2 separate regions of the Homo sapiens genome follow, and region 2 is linked to region 1. A link means that fine-mapping ties the variant in region 1 to the expression of a gene that starts in the linked region. Tissue or cell type: whole blood. Region 1 holds a variant in brackets; the other region holds the start of a gene. All regions are shown on one strand. Distances are from middle to middle.

Region 1 (10,459 bases):
TTCTGCTCTAATCTTTGTTTCTTCCCTTCTACTAATGTTGGGTTTGGTTTGTTCTTGCTTTCCTAGTACTTTAAGTTATATCATTAGGTTATTTGAAGTTTTTCTTCTTTTTTAATATAGGTGCTTATTGCTATAAACTTTCCTCTTAGTACTGTTTTCAGTGTATCCCATAGGTTTTGATATGTTGTGTCTTTATTTTCACTTGTTTCAAGAAGATTTTCCATTTCTTAATTTCTTCATTGACCCAACGGTCATTCAGGAACATATTATTTAATTTCCATGTGTTCGTATAGTTTCAAAAATTCCTCATATTATTGATTTCTAGATTTATTCCACTGTGGTCGGAGAACATCCTTAATGTTATTTTTATTTTATTGGCTGTTTTAAGGTTTGTTTTGTGACCTAATATATGGTCTATCTTTGAGAAGGGTCTATGTGCTGAGGAAAAGAATGTGTATTCTATAGCTATTGGATGAAATGTTCTGAAAATATCTATTAGGTCTATTTGTTCTATAGAGCAGATTAAGTCCAATATTTGTTGATTTTGTGTCTGGATAATCTGTCCAATGTTGAAAGTGGAGTGTTGAAGTTTCCAGCTATTATTGTATTGGGGTTTGTCTCTTTCTTTAGCTCTAACAGTATTTGCTTTGTATATCTGAGTGCTCCAGTGTTTGATGCATATATATTTATAATTGTGATATTCTGTTGCTGAATTGACCCCTTTATCATTATATAATTACCTTCTTTGTCTCTTTTTATAGTTTTTGTTTTGAAATCTATTTAGTCTGATATAGCTTCTCCTGTTGTTGTTGTTTTTTTTTTCTTTTTTTGGTTTCCATTGGCATGAAATATTTTTTTCCATCCTTTTGTTTTCTGTTGACATGTGTCTTTATGGGTGAAGTGTATTTCTTGTAGGCAGCAGATCATTGGGTCTTGTTTTTTTATCCATTCAGCCACTCTCTGTCTTTTGATTGGAGAGTTTAGTCCATTTACATTCAATGTTATTATTACCTAAGCACTTATTTCTCCCACTTTGCTTTTATTTTCTAGTTGTTTTGTGGTCTTCTTTTCCTTTTTTTTTCCTTCCCTTCTGCCTTCCTTTAGTGAGGGTGATTTCCTCTGGTGGTATGTTTTAAATTCTTGCTTTCTATATTTTGTGTATCTGTTGTATTTATTTTATTTGATGCTTGGGAATAATATTGTATAATCCATTGTTTTATACTGACAACACTGATTACATAAACAAACAAACTTACAAACAAGCAAAGAAAACACTAACAAAAACTTGACACTTTAACTGCATCCTGCCACTTTTTAACTTTTTGTTGTTTCTGTTTATATCTTTATTATACTGTCTATGTTTTGAAAGGTTGTTATAGTCATTATTTTTGATAGGTTCATGTTTTTGTCTTTCTACTTAAGATATGAGTAGTTTACACATCAAAATTACAGTGTTATAATCTGTGTTTGTCTATGTACTTACTATTACTAGTGAGTTTTGTAGCTTCAGATGACTTCTTATTGCTCATTAATAGCCTTTTCTTTCAGGTTGAAGAACTCCCTTTAGCATTTATTGTAGGACAGGTCTGGAGCTGATGAAATCCCTCAGCTTTTGTTTGTCTGGGAAAGTCTTTATTTCTCCTTCATGCCTGAAAGATATTTTCACTGGATATACCATTCTAGGGTAAAAGTTTTTTTCCTTCAGCACCTTAAATATGCCATTCCACTCTCTCCTTGTGTGTAAGGTTTCCACTGATAAGTCTACTGACAGATGTACTGGAGTTCCTTTGTATGTGATTTGTTTCTTTTCTCTTGCTAAAAGTAGCAAGATTCCTTCTTCATCCTTGACCTTTGGGAGTTTGATTATTAAATGTCTTGATATAGTCTTTTGGGGATTAAATCTGCTTGGTGTTCTATAACCTTCTTGTACTTGAATATTGATATCTTTCTCTAGTATTGGAAAGTTCTCTGTTATTATTTCTTTGAATACAGTTTCCATACTCTCTCTCTCTCTACCTCCTCTTCAAGGCCAATAACTCTTAGATTTGTCCTTTTGAGGCTATTTTCTAGATCTTCTGGCATGCTTTATTCTTTTTTATTCTGTTTTCTTTTGTCTCCTCTGACCATGTATTTTCAAATAACTTATCTTCAAGCTTACTAATTCTTCTGCCTGATCAAGTCTGCTATTAAGGGACTCTGATGCTTTTTTCAGTACATCAATTGCATTTTTGAGCTTCATAATTTCTTCTTGATTGTTTTTATTACATAAATCTCTTTGTTATATTTATCTAATAGAACTCTGAATTCCTTCTCTGTATTATCTTGAATTTCATTGAGCATCCTCAAAACAGCTACTTTGGATTCCATATCTTAAAAGTCACGTATCTCTGTCTATCAGAGATTGACCTCCTGATGCCTTATTTAGTTTATTTGATTAGGTTATGTTTTCCTGGATGGTCTTGATGCTTGTGGATATTTATCCACATCTAGGAATTGAAGAATTAGGTATTTATTGTAGTCTTTGCAGACATGTTCATGCCTGTCCTTCTGGGGAAGGCTTTCCAAGTATTCAAAGAGACTTGGGTGTTATGATCTAAGTTTTTGGTCACTAGAGCCATATCTGGATTAGGGATTATCCCAAGCCCAACAATGCTGTGGCTCTTGCAGACTCATAGAGGTACTACTGCCTTGGTGGCCTTGGGTAAGATCTGAGAGAAATCCCTGGGTTACCAGGCAGAGATACTTTTCTCTTACTTTCCCCCAAATGAATGGAATCTCTTTCTCTACGCTGAGCTGCCTGGAGCTGGGGGAGGGGTGATGCAAACACCATCACTGGGATTGCACTGGGTCAGACCTGTAACCAGCACAGCACTGTGTCTCATCTAAGGCCCTTGGTGACCACTGCCTGGCTACAGCCTATGTTCATTCAAGGTCCAAGGGCTCTACAACCAGCAGGTGGTGAATCCAGCTAGGCTTCTGTTCTTCCCTTAGGATGGCAAGATCCCCCCCAGCCCTAGGAGGGTCCAGAGATGCCATCCCAGAACCAAGGCCTGGAGTTGGGAACTTTCAGAAGCTACCTTGTGCTCTATTTTGCTACAGCTGAGCTGGCACCCAAGCTACAAAACAAAGTGTTTCCCAGTCTTCTCTTCCTTTTCCTCAAGCAGAGGAGTTTTTCCTTGTGGCCACTACTGGCTAGGCATGTGGTAAGTACTGCCTGGCTACCACTGATATTCACTCAAATCCCAAGGGCTCTTCAGTCAACTTGTGGTAAATGCTGCCAGGCCTAGATCTCTCTTTCAGGGCAGTGGGCTCCCCTCTTGCCCAGGATGTGTCCAGAAATGTCATCCAGGAGCTAGGGCCTGGAATGGGGTCCTCATGACTCTGCCTGGTGCTCTGTTCTACTGTGGCTGGGCTGGTATCCAAGTTGTAAGACAAAGTCCTCTTTACTTTCCCCTCTTGTATCCTCAAGTATAGGGAAGGAGTTGTGAGCTGTACTGCCTGGGGTTGGGGAAGGGGTTATGCAAGCACTCTGTTAGCCCTCCCAGCTGGTGTCTCACTAGGTTGTGTGCACCCCAAGTCCAGTGGCTCTGAGCCCAGCATAGCACCAGGACTTGCCCAGGAATTGCAGTCCTCGTGGCCTAGAGTGCCTTTCAAGTTTATTTAGGATCCTAGAGTACTTTAACCTATGGTGGTGGAGCTTGCCAGAGTTCAGTTTCTGTCTGCTGGGATGGACAATTCCCCTCTGGCTAGGGCTCATCTAAATGTTCCCTCTGTGGGTGCTGGCTGAATTTTTCCTTGTTTTGTTTTCCACTGTGATAGGGCAGAAGTGAGATCCAATGCAAAGTCCCACAATCGCTGCGTAGTCCCTCCCCAAGTGCACAGATTTTCTCTCCATGCCACATGGCCACTGCTGGAGGATGGGTGGGGGGGTGACATAAGTGATTCAAGACTGTCTTTCTTACCCCCTTCTGTATCTCTTTTCTTAATATGATGTTAAATCCAGGTACTACGATTACTCCCCTAATTTTTGGTTCTTATGAAGGTGCTTTTTTGTGTGGATAGTTGTTGAATTTGGTGTTCCTGTTGCGGAGACCATCGCTGGAGGGTTCTATTCGGCCGTCTTGCTCCATCTCCTGAAGCCTGACTTTTTTGAGCATGCCCTAACAGTATGTCCATATTTGTTTAAATTGTTATGACATCTAAATAGTTTTCAACTGAGGTCAAATATTTTTAAGGATAAGCTGGTCTGTAATGACTAGAGTGGCCACATAGTTCATCACTCAAATCTGAACAGTATCAAAGGTGAAAAGAGGCACTAACTGGGTATGATGCTGGGGCCACAGATGTCAGACCGAACAATAATTTCTCCAACAAAGCAAATGAGAATCTCCTGCAAAAGTCCTGGAATCATGTCCTTTGATTTGCCTTTGGAGAGGAAAGACAAAGCAGAGTAGAGAAAGAAAAATGGAGAGGCAGGAAGAAAAAGAGAAAGGAGAAGAGGCAAAGTGAGAGGAGACAAGAAAAGGGCTGGACTCATTTTAGCATGATATCTGATTGATGAAGTCCTAGTTTCTAAAATACAACAACTGGGGCCCTCCAAGAAGACTAAGAACGGAGAATGAACCAAAGAATCGAAGGTGAGGTCTCCTGAGCTGACCCCACTGTTAATCCAGCTGCTAAGTCCACATTGTTTGATTTTTTCCTAGTGTACATTGTGGGCTGTAGCTGACCTTGGCAGGGATCACGATACTGGGGAAACACAGTAGTGTTTATGTGGCTAGAATATATGTATAGTTTTTCACCCCTCTTGTAACCCTTGATCCTTCTGTCTATGTAGGCATCACTACCTAAGGAAAGGAATAACTGGGAAGAAAGCAAATAACACAAAATGAGTCAATTAATTAGCTTTTTAGTTTTTAAAGTCTTGGCCTCAGGAGAACAGAACTGGAGTGTTTACA[A/G]TAGATGTGGGAGAAGTGATGAATAATAAAAAAGAAGCTTCCTGAATCCACATGGCTCTCCCTCCTTTAGGCCAAAGTGTGCCCCAAGCTCCCTTCATCAACCAACCAGGAAAACAGAGAAAGCTTGTTCTTCCTCTGAAAACAGAAGAAAGGAGAGCTTAGATCAAGCTTGTTCAACCCGCAGCCTGCAGGTCACATGCAGCCCAAGATGGGTTTGAATGTCACCCAACACAAATTCATAAATTTTCTTAAAACTTTATGAGATTTTTTTGCAATTGTTTTAGCTCATCAGCTATTGTTAGTGTTAGTGTATTGTATGTGTGGCCCAAAACAATTTGCTTTCTTCCAATGCAGCTAAAGGAAGCCAAAAGATTGAACACCCCTGTCGTAGATGGTAATGAGTCCTGGATGAAAAAGCCTGCACCCAGCTCTCTTCCTGGTAGGTACCAGGGAGAATGTTCCACAACAGGAACTCCAGATATGTTTCGGGATTGTAGTACAGAAGAAACCTGTGTTCACCTTCTCTGGTAGACTCGAGAAAGGAGGCAAGACCCCCAAGTAAGGATGGCTGTCTACTCTGCCCTGGTAGATAAGTTTGAAAATGTCTCAGAGTAGACCTGTGAATGGTGAGGTTGGGGTACTGGGACAGTAGAATTATACTTGTGTACCCAAGGGTACCAAGGAAGTGACACATGGCTGTGGATGGTCCCACCAAGTTTTCTGTGGTCTCAGAATGGCATGGAGACATCAAGGTATTGCAACTCAAAACCAGATCCAGAGTTACTATGGTATGGTCTGACAAAGGGATGACTTGGCAATGACCAGCAGGTGTCCCTGTCCCATCTAAGTAGCTATGCTAGTGAAGAGTGCAGCCAACTTAGATGAGATGCCCTACATTCCTAACCTTCATTCAGTAGCACTGTGTAATCCTCAAACTGAGATGCAATCACAGGGGAAAGGCAGGTATCCGGAAATGACTGAAATTAAATTTCTATTGCCTGGAAGAAAAGGGGGTCATTGTAAGTATTAACTCTTTCCACACCTGGGTTTGTGAACTGAGATTTGTATATACCACATATAGAAACGTGTATACCTGCACCTCATCCTATGCCCTTACACCTCCAAGTCTAGGCAGAATGCCCCATCAGGGCAGCAAGTACCTCTAATTTTCCCTAGTGCTTTTAAACATTGTACCAATTCTGTGAATTAGTCCCTTTGTGTTGATTTTATAGTCACGACTGCCATGAAGAATTTCTCTCTCAAGTCTTTCATTATTTGTGTGTTTTATGCACCATTTCCCTCTAGAAAACAGCCATCTGCTCAGAAATCAGTATAATTGCATCACCTCCATGTTCCTTTCACTGGAGGCTTGACCTTAGATGATGTGGACTTCTAATATCTAAATGTTCTTATCCAATGAGCCATGACTCAACACAATTGGAGCGAACGTTTTAATAAGATTACCTGGAGTAGGGTGGGGGTACATCTCTCTTGGTTAGCACAACTAGAATGTGCGAAACAAAAAACAAAAAGGAGGCTCTACTGCCCTTCAAGAGAACTCTGCTGCCTTTCATGCTCTTAGAAGTCTGAACTCAGACATTCAAGTAACCTCATTCAGTATAAGTTTGATAGATGAGCACTAAGTTAGCTTCATGATTTTACAGCAGGTAAGACTTCTTTTTTTTGAGACTGAGTCTCACTCTATTGCCTAGGCTGGAGTGCAATGGCACGATCTTGGCTCCCTGCAACATCCACCTCCTGGGTTCAAGCCATTCTCCTGCCTCAGCCTCCCGAGTAGCTGGGATTACAGGCATGTGCCACCATGCTGGGCTAATTTTTGTATTTTTAGTAGAGATGGGGTTTCACCATGTTGGCCAGGCTGGTCTCGAACTCCTGACCTCACGTGGTCCACTCGCCTCAGCCTCCCAAAGTACTGGGATTATAGTCATGAGCCACTGCACCCGGCCTAGGTGAGACTTTTAAAACCCAAGCTACTTTGGGAGGCTGAGGCGAGCGGATCACGAAGTCAGGAGATCGAGACCATCCTGGCTAACACAGTGAAACCCCGTCTCTACTAAAAATACAAAAAGTTAGCCAGGTGTGGTAGTGGGCACCTGTAGTCCCAGCTACTCAGGAGGCTGAGGCAGGAGAATGGCATGAACCCGGGATGCGGAGCTTGCAGTGAGCCGAGATCACGCCACTGCATTCCAGCCTGGGTGACAGAGCAAGACTCCATCTTAAAAACAAACAAACAAACAAACAAAACCCAAGCTAACAAGTGTGTTAAAACATGTCAGTTTTTTCTATATTTTTTTGTAACTTTACAAACTTGGTGTATTTAGGTTCCCTCCCCCACTTTCTCCACAGATACTCTAAGTTGCAGGGAAGGCTGAAGCTTCTAGCAATGGGAAGGAGGAGGTGGCCTTCAGTATGGACTGGCATTCACTGAGATATTGCTTGCACCATCTGCTCTTTGGACATCACACCTTTAGCCCAGTGTCTTTGTTTCCTCTTTGGTATCAGATTAGCATGTCCATGTACTCTGTGTATCCCTCATCCCAACCAAAAGCTCCTTCAGATCCACTGGGGCCCTTTATATCACTCCCTTGATATATCCAGAAGTAAGGCAAACTTCCCTTCTGTGTGTGTGCAGGAGAGTTAGACAAATGTGAAAGCCCTCTTTGGCCCCATCGTCTCCCCTGTTTTGTTGCTGCACCGTGCTGTCTGGACTGTCTTTAAGAGAACCAGCCAGGTGAGTACTGTATTCTTAAAAATCTATTGTCTTACTGTAAAGCTACAGTAATCAAGGCAGTGTGGCATCTGGTGAAAAAAACAGACAAAGAGACAAATGAAACAGAATAGAGAGTCCAGAAACGGACCTGCATGATTGGTCACCTGATTTTTGGCAAAGTAACAAAGGCAATTCAATGGAGAAAATGTGGTGCTTTTTTGTTTTGTTTTGTTTGTTTTTTCAACAAATGTTGCTAGAACAACTGGAACATCTACATGCAAAAATAAAAATAAAAATAAAATTTAAAAAAGACCCATCTAGATAAAGCCCTTACACTCTTCACAAAAATTAACTAAAAATGGATCACAGACTTACATATAAAACACAAAACAATAAAATTCCTACAAGATACCATAAAAGAAAACCTAATTGACCTTGGGTATGGAGATGACTTTTAAGATACAAAACTACAGGCATGACACATGAAAGAAATAATTGATAAGCTGGGCTTCATTAAAATTAAAAACTTCTCCTCTGTGAAGGACAATGTCAAGGGAATGAGAAGACAAGCTACAGACTGGGAGAAAATATTTGCAAAAGAGACGTCTGATAAAGGACTATTATCCAAAATATACTAAAAACCCTTCAAGCTCAGCAAACAACCCAATTAAGAATAAGAAAACAAACAACCCAACTAAAAATGGGCAAGGCTTGGCACTGTGGCTCATGCCTGTCATCCCAGCACTTTGGGAGGCCAAGACAGGTGGATCAGTTGAGGTCAGGAGTTCAAGACCAGCCTGGCCAACATGGTGAAACCCTGTCTCTATTAAAAATACATAAATTAGCCAGGCATGGTGGGATGCACCTGTAGTCCCAGCTACTTGGGAGGCTGAGGCAGGAGAACCGCTCAAATCTAGGAGGCAGAGGTTGCAGTGAGCTGAGATAGCACCACTGCACTCCAGCCTGGGTGACAGAGTGAGACTCCATCTCAAAAAAAAAAAAAAAAAAAAAAAAAAAAGGGCAAAAGACCTAAACAGAGATCTCACCAAAAAAGGTATACATATGGCAAATAAGCATATGAAAAGATGTTCTACATCATATCTCATCAGAGAAATACAAATTAAAACAACATTGAGATATGACTGCAAACCTATTAAAATGGCCAAAATGCAAAACACTGACAACACCAAATGCTGGTGAGACAAGACAACAGAAACTCCCATTTATTGCTGGTGGAATTGCAAACTGGTACAGCCAATTTGGAAGACAGTTTGGTATTTTCTTACAAAACTAAACATAGCCGTACCGTATGATCTGACAATTATACTTATTAGTATTTACCCAAACGAATTGAAAAATTATGTCCACACAAAAATCCGCACACAGATGTTTATAGTAGCTTTACTTATAATTGTTAAAACTTAAAAGCAACCAAAACGTCCTTAAGTAGGTGAATGGATAAACTGTAGTATATCTAGACAATGGAATATTATTTACCTCTAGAAGGAAATGAGCTATCAAGCCATGAAATGACATAGAGGAATTTAAATGCATATTGCTAAATGAGAGAAGTCAATCTGAGCAGGCCACATACTGTATGATTCTAATTACAGTATATGACATTCTAGAAAAGACAAAACTATGGAGACAGTAAAAAGATTAGTGGCTGGCAGAGGTTGTGGGGAGGGAGGAGTGAATAGACAGAGCACAGAGGATTTTTAGGGCAGTGAAATTACTCTGTATGATACCAAAACGGTGGATACATGTCTTTATACATCTATCAAAACCCTTAGAACATACAACACCAGGAGTGAGCCCTAATGTAAACTGTGGACTTTGGGTGACAATCATATGTCAATGTAAGTTCATCCATTGTACCACTCTAGTGGGGGATGCCGGTAGTGGAGGAGGTTCTGTGTAAGTTGGGATAGGAGCTATGTGGGAACCCTATACTTTCTGCTTGATGTTGCTGTGAACCTAAAACTGCTCTAAAACACAAAGCTTATTAATTAAAAAAAAAAAATCTATTGTCTGGCCCAGAAACTTGGCTCTGGCTTGAGTAATGAAAAAATCTCTTCCTTCAAGGCTATTGTTTCTGCTACATGTTTAGAATATGTATTTAGCAATTCCAAGTAGAGAGTCGACCTTCTGACCTTTCCTGCTATCTCTGTGATCTCTTGTATCAGAGGTTCCAACGTGAAAAACTATATGACCCAAATATGCATCCGCAATATATTTTTATGTTTGAGTTCATTTTTTATATTTTAAATCCAAGATGTTTCTTTTCCAATAAGAGGAGCCAGAGCTTCTTGGAGAAGTTGCTGATTCCAGGGCTAGGGCGAGGAAAGCAGAAGATGAGCCTCTGAAACATGTTGCCATCCCAGAAAATAAGGAAGTGCTCAAAATAGGATGAGGCATGACAAAAGCACATCACAGCCAAGCCAATTGGAAGGCACTCCCAATGGGCAAATCGAGAACAATTTGAGCAACAAAATAACAATAATAATAATGGATTGTAACCCATAAAATAAAATAAATATCCATACTAATATAAATAATTGAATAAATAAATAAACAGGGGAAAGGGATAGGACAGCTTTTCCTTACAGAGGAATTCTAATTAATAAATGTAGAATGAATGCAGGAAATACATCACCACTAGGCAGATATTACATTAAACAGTAATCATTGTAGGCAAGATCCACTGACAGATGTTAAAATCAGTGGACTAAAGTTTAATAGGAAACAGGATACTTGTAGCTTCAAAGTA
Region 2 (10,459 bases), 79 kb before region 1:
GGTAGATGTTTCTCAATTTTAAATATATTTATTTTTATGATATTGAAGCCCTATTCTGTTATTAGAATTAGTTTATTTATTTGGAATAATTCACTTCTTGGATTGGATGGATGCCAAGCTGGATTATTACCCTAGGCTGCTGATGGAAAGCATCCAAAAGTTTTACCAGTTCTTTTGTTAGTTTCTTGTATAGGGTAAGAATAAAAACTCATTTAAATTGCCATAATTTATGCAATGAAACCCAATAAACTAGCCAAATTTCAAGTTCCTGCCTTCCATCAACATTTCCATTAGATGAAAACTCCTTCTTTATCTAAACCAATTGATGGTAGTTAGATCTTTTAATGGATTTGATTCTCTACTTAACATTCATGAGTCTTTAGGATGAAAACTGCTTCAGAAAATGAAGATTTCAATGACTAGTTTAGTCTGAATCATCATGGCTGAAATTAGAAAACACAAAGCCAGTGTGATCAATGGGAAGATCATTGACATAAGTGTCAGTTTCTGTTAATGGTGTGGCCTCTAATTAATTTTGTGATCTTTTGCAAGTTACTTAATCCCTGTCTGTTTTTTACTCTGAGAGATAATAAAATTGGACCAAATCAATGGTTTGCAAATTGTTATATATGTGCACAACACTTTTGAAAAAAAAATCAAATAAAATCTCATGGATTCCTAACATGCAAGTAGAGAAAAGCAATATTGCAGCAATATTTAAGCTTCATAAGCTTAAATGGGTAAAATTGTGTAATGAGAAAAAAAATAATGTCTAGTGTTAGAGGAAATAGTTATAATCTTATATCAGTCTCATCTGTTTTTGTGTGTGTGTGTGTTTGTTGGAGAAAATGATTCATAGCTCACCTGCAATCTTAATACTCTTTAGTCCGAGCAAGAAGCTTGAAAGAGAAGTAATAGAAAATGTTTTTAAAGTTGAATTATTTGCAATACCTAACAAGTATATCCGTTCTCGTTAATACTCATGTCAGGCAAAAATTACCTAATAGACTAAGTGCAAAAATATCTATAGTATGATATCTTGGCACAGCATTTAAGTGGATAGACCTGAGCTGCATTCTTATTACAGGTCTGAATGTTTAGAAAGAAAAGAAAAAATGAGGTTTATGGAGAACTAATGTTGGTAGAGTCTTGTGTACAGCATATTCATTGAGTGCTAGCTCTATTCTCCAGGAGCCTGTTGTCTAAAAGTGGCCTGCTGTACCACCTATTACACATGCAATTTGTAATGCATTAATTTGGAGCTTCTGATAATTCAAACAGGATTAGCTACCTATCAAACCCCCCTTTTTCATCCTAAATTGGTAGAAGATAGCAAAGGAAAATTTAAAATATTTCAAAAAGACTTTTGAATATGGTATAAATATAATTTATGTTAAATATATTTAAAAGCAATTAAATATTTGACTATGTATTACTATATATGTACATGTAATGGTGATGTATGTATTTTCCATTCTTTACTATAAAATGTTAATATGTTAAGGCAGTTTAACTTAATTAATAGTTAAACTATCATATATTTAAATACTCTGGAATACTTACCCTTTGCAAATGGAAGCTGCTCCTTGTCCTTAATAACACTTTCTCTATAAGCTCTCTTATATGACCTCTACTTTGCTTTCTTACGGGATTGACCACGCCTCTATGAAACATACTAATGAATGCCCATGGCATGCCCATGCTCCCACCTAGTAATTTGCTACCTTCTCCTAACCCGCATACTTCTGCTTCTGCCAGTTGAGTTGTATGCTTACCAGGATTCAGTTATAGTTGTTTCCAAACTTATTATATCAGTCATACTGTTAATATTAGGTAATTAAATGTCACATAATCTCATAAATATGAGTATCAAAGAGTTGTTTTGCCTTTGAAAATTAAGCTGAATACTTTGAGAGGACTTTAAGCAAATTGCTTTTAAAAAAAGGTTTCAAGTATGGGAAAGAAAACTGGAAAATATTGGAAAGTGTATGGGCTTTGTGAAGTTTTTGCTCAGATTGTCCCTACTGCCTTTTGGTTCTCACTCCACTTTAAAAAAGCTTAAATTGGAAATGATTCATTGTGAATGCTGTTCATTCAAGAAAGATCATCAAGAAGGATCACTTGACTCTTGTAAACGGACCTATACTCAAAAGGCTTTGGCACACTGTCAAGATATTAGTATACAAATGTGCATTTGTGTTTAAGTTAAAATGAGGTATGAAGGGTAAAATGCAAAATAAGTATATATTTTCTATAAGTTCCCTGCTATAAATTACTTTCAATGAACTGAAAACTACCTTTCTTTCCTTTTTTAAAAAAATTTTTTTGGTTTTGTTTTTTGAGACATGGGCTCCCTCTGTTACCCAGGCTACAGTACAGTGGCGTGATCCTAGCTCACTGCAGCCTCAAACTCCTGAGCTTACATGATCCTCCCACCTCAGCCTCCTGAGTACTTTGGTCTATGAGTGTACACCACCATACCCAGCTAACTTTTTTTTTTTTTAGAGATGGGGTCTCACTATGTTGCCCAGGCTGGTCTTGAACTGCTGGTCCCAAGGGATCCTCACCTTAGCCTCCCAGAGTGCTGGGATTACAGGTGTGAGCCACTGTCCCTGGCCTGAATAACTACCTTTCTAACTACATCAGATAAGAGACTTTCTGCTATAGTTCACATTGGGCTTTTGTGCACCCAACTGCAGATCACAACTGTATTGTGACTGTTTTCCCAAAGTAAGTTTGACATTCAGTTTGCTTTTATTTATTTCCTTCATTAATTCTATAAAAAATATTTATTAAGCCCCCATTGTACTCCAGGCACTGCACCAGCCACTGGAGGAGACTTGTGTGACTGAGGTAGATATAGTCTGTGGCCCTAGTAAATTTGCAGCTTGGGAAGAATACAGATAAGTAAAATGAAGCACCATGCTACAAGAGAACACAGAAGGAATACTGACTTGTATTTGTAGGATGCGAGGCGGCTTCTTTGTTCTTTTTTTGTTGTTCTTTTTGTTTTTGTGGGGTTTTCACAGTTAAAAAAAAATCTTCCTCACTCCTTGGTATGAAACCGAATGAGAATTATCTTTGACAAATGATTGGCTTGCAGCTTATCCCTTAATGAGCAGCTCCTGTATGAAAGCCAGTGTTATACACACAGACACAGACTCACACACCTTGGCACTGTTTCCCAGACTGCCTGTGGCAACCGTGCTTCCAGGAAGCCCAAGTTCTATGAATTAGATATGCACTTAATATCAAATTAAATATTAGAAAACTGTCATCACAGCCATTACCAGGCATGCTGCTGGGACCCCCAAAAGTTTTGATTGAACGCTGCGCATTATCCATTAAAAGGAAAAGTATGGAGGCTCCAGATGTTATTCTTCACCAAAGGGGAGTACACCTTCTTTTGTTAGGCAAGCTGAGAAGGGGATAATCAACTTTCACTGAGCTGAGTGAAATCTAGGCTCCTAAGGCCTCAGCCAAGACCCTGGTTTATTCACCAGGGCCCTTCCCCTTGTGAGTCCTGAACCGTAATTCTTGTTCCCTAAGCATGGTGACCCTGCCAAAAACTTCACTTTCTTTTCAGTCTTTCCACTTAGCCTTTTGCCCTGTTAATCTTTTAGCCTTTTGCTCTCTTAACCTCTTGAAGAGAAAACCAGGGTCAGTTTTCTGCCTCTCACCAGGATCTTGGCCTCGTATATTTTCAACTTTGTCTTTTGAACCCTCCAAGGCTATCTAGAGCTCTGCTGATTTCTCTGCTCCAGTGGCGGATTCTTACTCTACATCTAAACTCTGCAAATGTCCCCGAATAAAAGAAGTTGCAGATCAACAGATCAACAACTCACCCCTCTGTGATTCTACCCTCTTCAAACTGTGGCCTTGATAGTCACCTATGCATCAGCAGTTCTCTTATGTCTTTTAACCGAGTTTTAAATTTAATTTTATTTTATGTGGCCTTTCTAGTTATTTTTGGTGAGAGCATCAGTCTGCTGCCCGACAGCCTATTCAGAGGCAGAAGTCCTAAGCCTGTATTTGAAACCACAGGGCAGGAGCTGTGTTCAAGCATGTAGCTTTTCATAAGTCTAAAGGACTTTATCCAGTTTCCATCTGGGGGCTCTAAAAAGGTCTTCTCTGCTCAGAAAGTTAATGTTCCTCAAGATTTGACAAATGCGTGTCAAAATTCATCTTGTTCCTCCTTTTAACATCAAATGGTGAGATTTTCTTACAAATACATTAAAGCATAACATTTAGTGATTCCATGTGTTAAGCCATTATTTGTTAAATCAGCTTTATTTTAGTACGGCTTATAGACTCACTTGGAGTTGACCAGGATTGATTTTGGCAGGGAGGTACATCCTCTCCCTGCTTTCTGAAGGTGCCATTGTGTGTGGAAATGGAGAGATGGTCTCGGCTTTGGCGGTGCAGGCACCTGGAAAGATGCTCAGTTTCACTCTGAGAAGCTTCGGTCAGTGCTGGTCACCTGTGCATAAAGAGCCAGTGGACTCAACTGTGGGGAATATCAAGGTCCCAAATATCTGACTGTCCAGAAGCATCTTACTGTCCTTAGTGAATACGCAGGAATCAGTCTTTCTCTGAGGCCGTGGCAGGGCACAGATCAATCAGGGAGAATAGTTGGTCCCAGACCAGAGCCCACCTAGAACTGAGGATGTGTAAAGGGTGTCTGACTGGCTTACTCCTTGGCTTAAAGCCACTTTAATCTAGGACGTTGCGGAAGCCAGAGTGTATGTCGATTCCATTAAGGAAAGAAGAGAAATGCTTATGGAAACAGTACCACCTCCATATCCATTGGCCTCCCCTTCCCGACCTCCACCCTGCTGTACCCATCAGTCATCTGAAAGGAAGATCCCACAGAGTTGACAGACTCCTTTAGAGAGAAGATCGTCATATGCTCTCCGTAGGTTACCTGTCTATTTAGAAGCAAACCTCTCGTCACCCGCTGCGGAGCATCTCGATGTTAGAAACCACGCCACTATTTTTAGTGTGTGTCCTTGTGCTTCTGCACGATGAGTCAGGGTTCTCTTTTAAAAAATACTTGGCATTCCTCAGAAGAAAGATAAACACATTTAATGTTCTCAGTTGCTACTATTCTAATCGCAAAGTCAAGAGTTCCTTCTTTTCTTAGCTGCCTTCAGTGCCACAGAACTATCTGGGCCTCTTCCTCTACCCCTCCTTGTGTGATCGCTCCTTTCAAAAGCAACAGCCAAAGCAGATGCAAGGGAGATGCATTGGTGCTCATAAATTCAAGGAGCTGAAATGGCAACAGCTGTGGCAATTTCAGGATTTCAGCAGGTAATCAAGTAAGTGCAAAAGCGGGATTTGACAATTCTACAGGGGACTGGGACAGAGGGCAGCGAGAACTTGAGCTTCAAGGAGAATCTTCACTAGCTATCAACAAGAAATGTAAATGCTGTGACTTTACCCAGTTAAGCACAGCAGATTTTCCTGCTTTCAACTCTAATCCTTGAGCAGCAGGAGTACCCTTTCCCATCTCACAACATTTGACTTTCTCAGATATATTTATTCTATGTTATATACTGCAGTTCACCTATGTATTTTGGGGTTAATTTATCACTGGTTGAATAACATCGTTCAATAGACTTATGAAAAGATGGGCATTTTCAGTTGTGCCAATTTAGGTGAGGCTTATGGACAGTGTTTCTTCCAAAATGTTCCCAAGTCTAAAGGACCATGATTCTCAAATTCTCTGTAAAGTATAACTAGGTCTCTTTCTCACCTTGGAAGAACAGCAGCTAGAGGCCAGCATTCAAGGCATGGAACGGAGAAGGTATATGGTGCCTTGTTCTCTTTTGTTATTAGATGTAATTATGAAATATAAAACTAGGACAAAAGCAAGTTGTAAGTGTTAGCATAGTGGCTACGAGCACAGACTCAAGCCAGTCTGCCTAGGTTCAAATCCCAGCTCTGCCACTTGCGGGCTTTGTGACCTAGGACAAGTTTCTTTACTGTTTTACTGTCCCAGTTTCTGCATCTGTATAACATTGCTAGTAATACCCACTGCAAATGATTTTATGAGAATTAATTTACTCACTGTTTGGGAAGTACTTAGAATAATGCCTAGCAATAGTAAGCACTCAGTAAATGTCTTTTATATAGAGCATGTATCTATCTCTTCAATAACAAGCACCTGTGCAACAGTCAGAACACCACAAAATAGCACTATAAAGACAGTAAAAAATATCCCTTTGTTTTTTTTTAACATGTCTTTGTATTAATTAGAGCTCTGCCAGCTGCAAATTCAGAAATCCAATTTCTGAACTAGCCTAAGGGGACACAAAAGGAACTTATTGCCTCTTGGGATTGGGAAGTTCAGTGTGCCTCTGATTTCAGGAACAGCTGAATCCAAGAGCTCAGACTCTGTCCCCATCACTGCTGCTGTCTCTCTCCCTTTGTCTCTTGACTGTGCTCACATAATTATACCTGCAGTCTTTCACATGACAGGAAAGGTGACCACCACCAGCCCCTTGCTTATACCCAACTAATACCTATATATTAGTTGGTCTTACACTGCTATAAAGACATACCTGAGACTGGGTAATTTATAAAGAAAAGAGGTTTAATTAGCTCACGGTTCTGCAAGCTATACGGCTTCTGCTTATGGGGAGGCCTCAGGAAACTTATAATCATGGCAGGAGGGGAAGGGAAAGTAGGCATGGTCTTCACATGGCCAGAGCAGGAGGAAGGTGGAGGGGAAGTTGCTACCCACTTTCAAACAACCAGATCTCAGGAGAACTCTGTCATGAGATAGCACTAGGGGGATGGTACTAAACCATCAGAAACCACCCCCATGATCCAATCATCTCCCACCAGGCCCCACCTCCAACATCAGGGATTACAATTCAACATGAGATTTGAGTGGGGACACAGAGCCAAACCATATCACCCTCCTAGCCTAGCATCTCCTGCAGAAATGGTCTCCCCTGATGGGAAGAGCTGTGACTGGCTCAGCCTAGAAGCAGTCACTATGGATGGAGGGATATTGTTACCTAGCTGGACCAGGTGCCTACCTCTGTACAGCTTGGGGTGGGGGGTGGGGAGGTTGGAGTGAGGCAAGGTTGGCAACAGCAGTTCCAATCAAACCACACCACAGCTATGGAAATGGGTACCCATGGGAATGAGTGGTCCTGGTATTAGAGGAAAGTGGCACTAGGGGATGATGTTGTGCAGTCCAAAGCAATAGATGCCCATCTGAAGCTAGCTGGGAAAAGGCTTGAGTTCATCAGCAGGAGTGTACATTTCATAAGACATTTCATTTTTGAATGTCTCATTTCATATTTATCCCATTTCGTGGACAAATATCCATTATAAACATATAAACATCAAATTATGTCTGATTTTCTTAAGTCAATGAATAGTAACTGATTATCTTTTGATCTACAATACTCTAAAAAGTAGTTATAATTATGTATAGAGATAGAGTCTTCATCCTTCTGTATAGAGATGGTGTATTAGTTCATTCTTATGCTGCTAATAAAGACACACCCGAGACTGAGTAATTTATAAAGAAAAAAGAGGTTTAATAGACTCACAGTTCCACATGGCTGGAGAGGCCTCACAATCATGGTGGAAGACAAAGGAGGAGCAAGGACACATCTTACATTGCAGCAGACAGGAGAGCGGGTGCAGGGGAACTCCCCTTTATAAAACCATCAAATCTCGTGAGATTTATTCACTATCACGAGAACAGCATGGGAAAGATCTGTCAATGTGATTCAATTACCTCCTACCAGGTCCCTCCCATGACATGTGAGAATTATGGGAGCTACAATTCAAGATGAGATTTGGGTGGGGAGACAGCAAAGCCACATCAGATGGCAAATAAATATGTTTCATCTATTATGCCAACCTATGAAAATTGGGTGTGAATTTCCTAGAACACTCTGTTGAGAGTTTCTGAGGTTGCGTCCTTGCTCAGACAAAATGATACCTGCCATCGATATGGTTTGGGATGTGGTGGTACATATGCCAGGTAGTAACTCCCTGCATACTGCCAGTTTAAGAACGCTTACCCACAAACTGAGGACATATGTGGAGGGATTTTCTGTTAGAGTCACTGTCAGAGCTGAGCTGCCAAACAATGGCAGAACTCATTCAAATTGGCCAGTTAACTGCCCGATGTAGCAGGTTATGCTCCTAACTGAGCAGCCTCACAACACCACACGTGAGTGCTGGGAGGCTGACTCAGCTCTGTCTAGAAAGAAGAAAATGCTGATTTACCTCTTTCCAAGCTGCTTGGATCTGCCTCTTGCAAACAACAAGTAAATAAGGGCAGGAGGTAATTTAAGCTTTTCTTTTTCATTTAGCTTTCTTTTGTAGTTTAATACTTCAACTGAGGTCATATATGTACTGTTTCATCAATTGCTAGGCGTAGTAAGTGTTCATCAATGGTAGCAATTTTCATGATTCTTTTCACAACTTTTTTCCTTATAAAGCATTTATTTTATCACTAAATAAAAAGAATTATATAGCCAAACTTAGTTTAAAGATTTGCTTGGAAAATTTCAGAGATGATACCCCTGTATTAATCATGTTCTTTTTTTTCATATTTTATGATGCTTTGACACTGTGGGGGCTGTGTGGACCTGGGGAGGGACTGCCCCTCCAGGGGTTAGCTAATTTTTAGAGATAGCAGACAACTTGCCTGTGAGCACACCTTTTGTATACAACCCCACCAATCCAAAGCCCATATCCTCAACCACCACCTTTATCTCACTCTAATACACCAAGCCAGTATTTCCACTGCCAAATCACCCAAGGCCGGGCATCAGACAATTAGAGACCACCCCTATGGCCAGAGCCTGCCCACATTATCCAAACTATCCAATTCTAAGCTTGCTCAAACCTGCCTTCCCTGCCTCACCCTTTCTCTCCCATGGAAACCACAGTAAGACTCTAGACCAGGCTTTTCCCTCATTCCTTCTGCTTCCTGACTGACCTGGGTACTTCCCCGGAGGCCTGACATAATATGGCATGCCCCTTCTCTTGGAGCCTGTAAGTAATAAACTCTTCTTTCAAAGACAGTTGTCTCTATATCTGTGATGAAACTGTCTTTGCAAAATTATGACGGTGAGAGAAATCTAACATAACTGACTCCATCTTGCTTCTAACTTCACAAGCTAAGCCTTTGCTCATTCTAAGCTAACTATGGGAGGAATTTTGTTTATAATTTAACTTTAAGACAAAGATGATAGCAGTTCCTTCCTGAAAGTAACCCCCACCTTACTCGGGGACCAAAATCACCTTTTTAAAACTAATGAAAGTCCACAAGGTTACAATTGTGATAGGAACCTGAATTCTGCTAAGATGTAGGTATAAACCCTAACCAGTCATTGTTTTATAACTTGCTTTTTAAAAATTACTTACTACTCAGGAGTGATGTAGCCACAAAATTTATAACTTCACCAATTGCCCCTATGGAGAACATTGCTATTGTAAAACCAAAGACTGGTGTTTGAGATATGTTTCAGATCTTCAATTCTGTATGAACCAACTGGCACCACCCAGACCAGTAACCCACACTCAGGAACTAACTCAGCACAAGACAGGGTCGACCCCCTATGATTTCATCTCCAACCCAGCCAACAAATATTCCCCATTCCCTAGTCCCCTGCTTGCTAAACTAGCCTTGAAAAACCCTAGTCCCCAAATTCTCAGGGAGGCAGATTTGAGAATTATCTCCCATCATGCTATTTGGCTGGCCTGCAATAATTAAATCTTTCCTTGCTGTGAACACTCTTGCTGCCCTCAGTGCATTGGCTTTTCTGGGCAGTGGGCAAGAAGAACCTGCCTGGGCAATTACAATCATACCTGTTTAAGACAAATCCCAGGGCTGGGTGCAGTGGCTTACACCTGTAATACCAAAACTTCGGGAGGCCAAGGAGGAAGGATTGCTTGAGCCCAGGAGGTTGAGGCTGCAAGCGAACCATGTTTATGCCACTGCACTCCAGCCTGGGCAACAGAGTGAGACCCCGTCTCTCAATCAATCAATCAAATCCCAGGTACATTTTAAGATACTCCCATAACCAAAAACGTAGGGCTGAAGAATAATATGCAAATAAAAAAATAGTCTCAAAACTGAAGTGAAAGTAAAAATGTGGAAAGAAGAAAGCCTTTGAATACAATATGTTGGCATAATTTATTATTTCCTCTCTCTAATCGTGTTTGGAAAAGAAGTTATCTAAATCCCAGGCAAATAGATATTGGAACTCTGGAATTTCTATGTAAATAATACCCATTTGCTATAGAGTTCTTTAATGAAGAACTTACTTTTACAAAATTATGGACAATATTAACATTACCAGAAATAATCTCCAATACAATCTTTAGCAATTTAGCAGTTAACTTCATCTCATCAAAACATGTTCAGACTTGGACCTTCTATTTTTGCATTTTCTTATTTTAGTTTCAAGAAAATTCTTAA

Evidence for each region. PIP is the estimated chance that this variant, and not a neighbour inherited with it, causes the effect.
Region 2: it holds the start of LINC02284, and the variant in region 1 is fine-mapped to the expression of LINC02284 in whole blood (INTERVAL, PIP 0.93).

The regions. Positions count from the first base shown.
Region 1 is chr14:56,385,264-56,395,722 of GRCh38, forward strand. All of the region lies in intron 6 of LINC02284 (long intergenic non-protein coding RNA 2284), which reads left to right. Among named protein-coding and RNA genes, the nearest start is that of LINC02284, 80 kb to the left of the region's middle. The variant A/G (reference allele first, on the strand shown) is at 4,959.
Region 2 is chr14:56,305,785-56,316,243 of GRCh38, forward strand. LINC02284 (long intergenic non-protein coding RNA 2284) reads left to right here and starts at 5,205. Exons shown (of 7, transcript NR_187174.1): 1 at 5,205-5,310.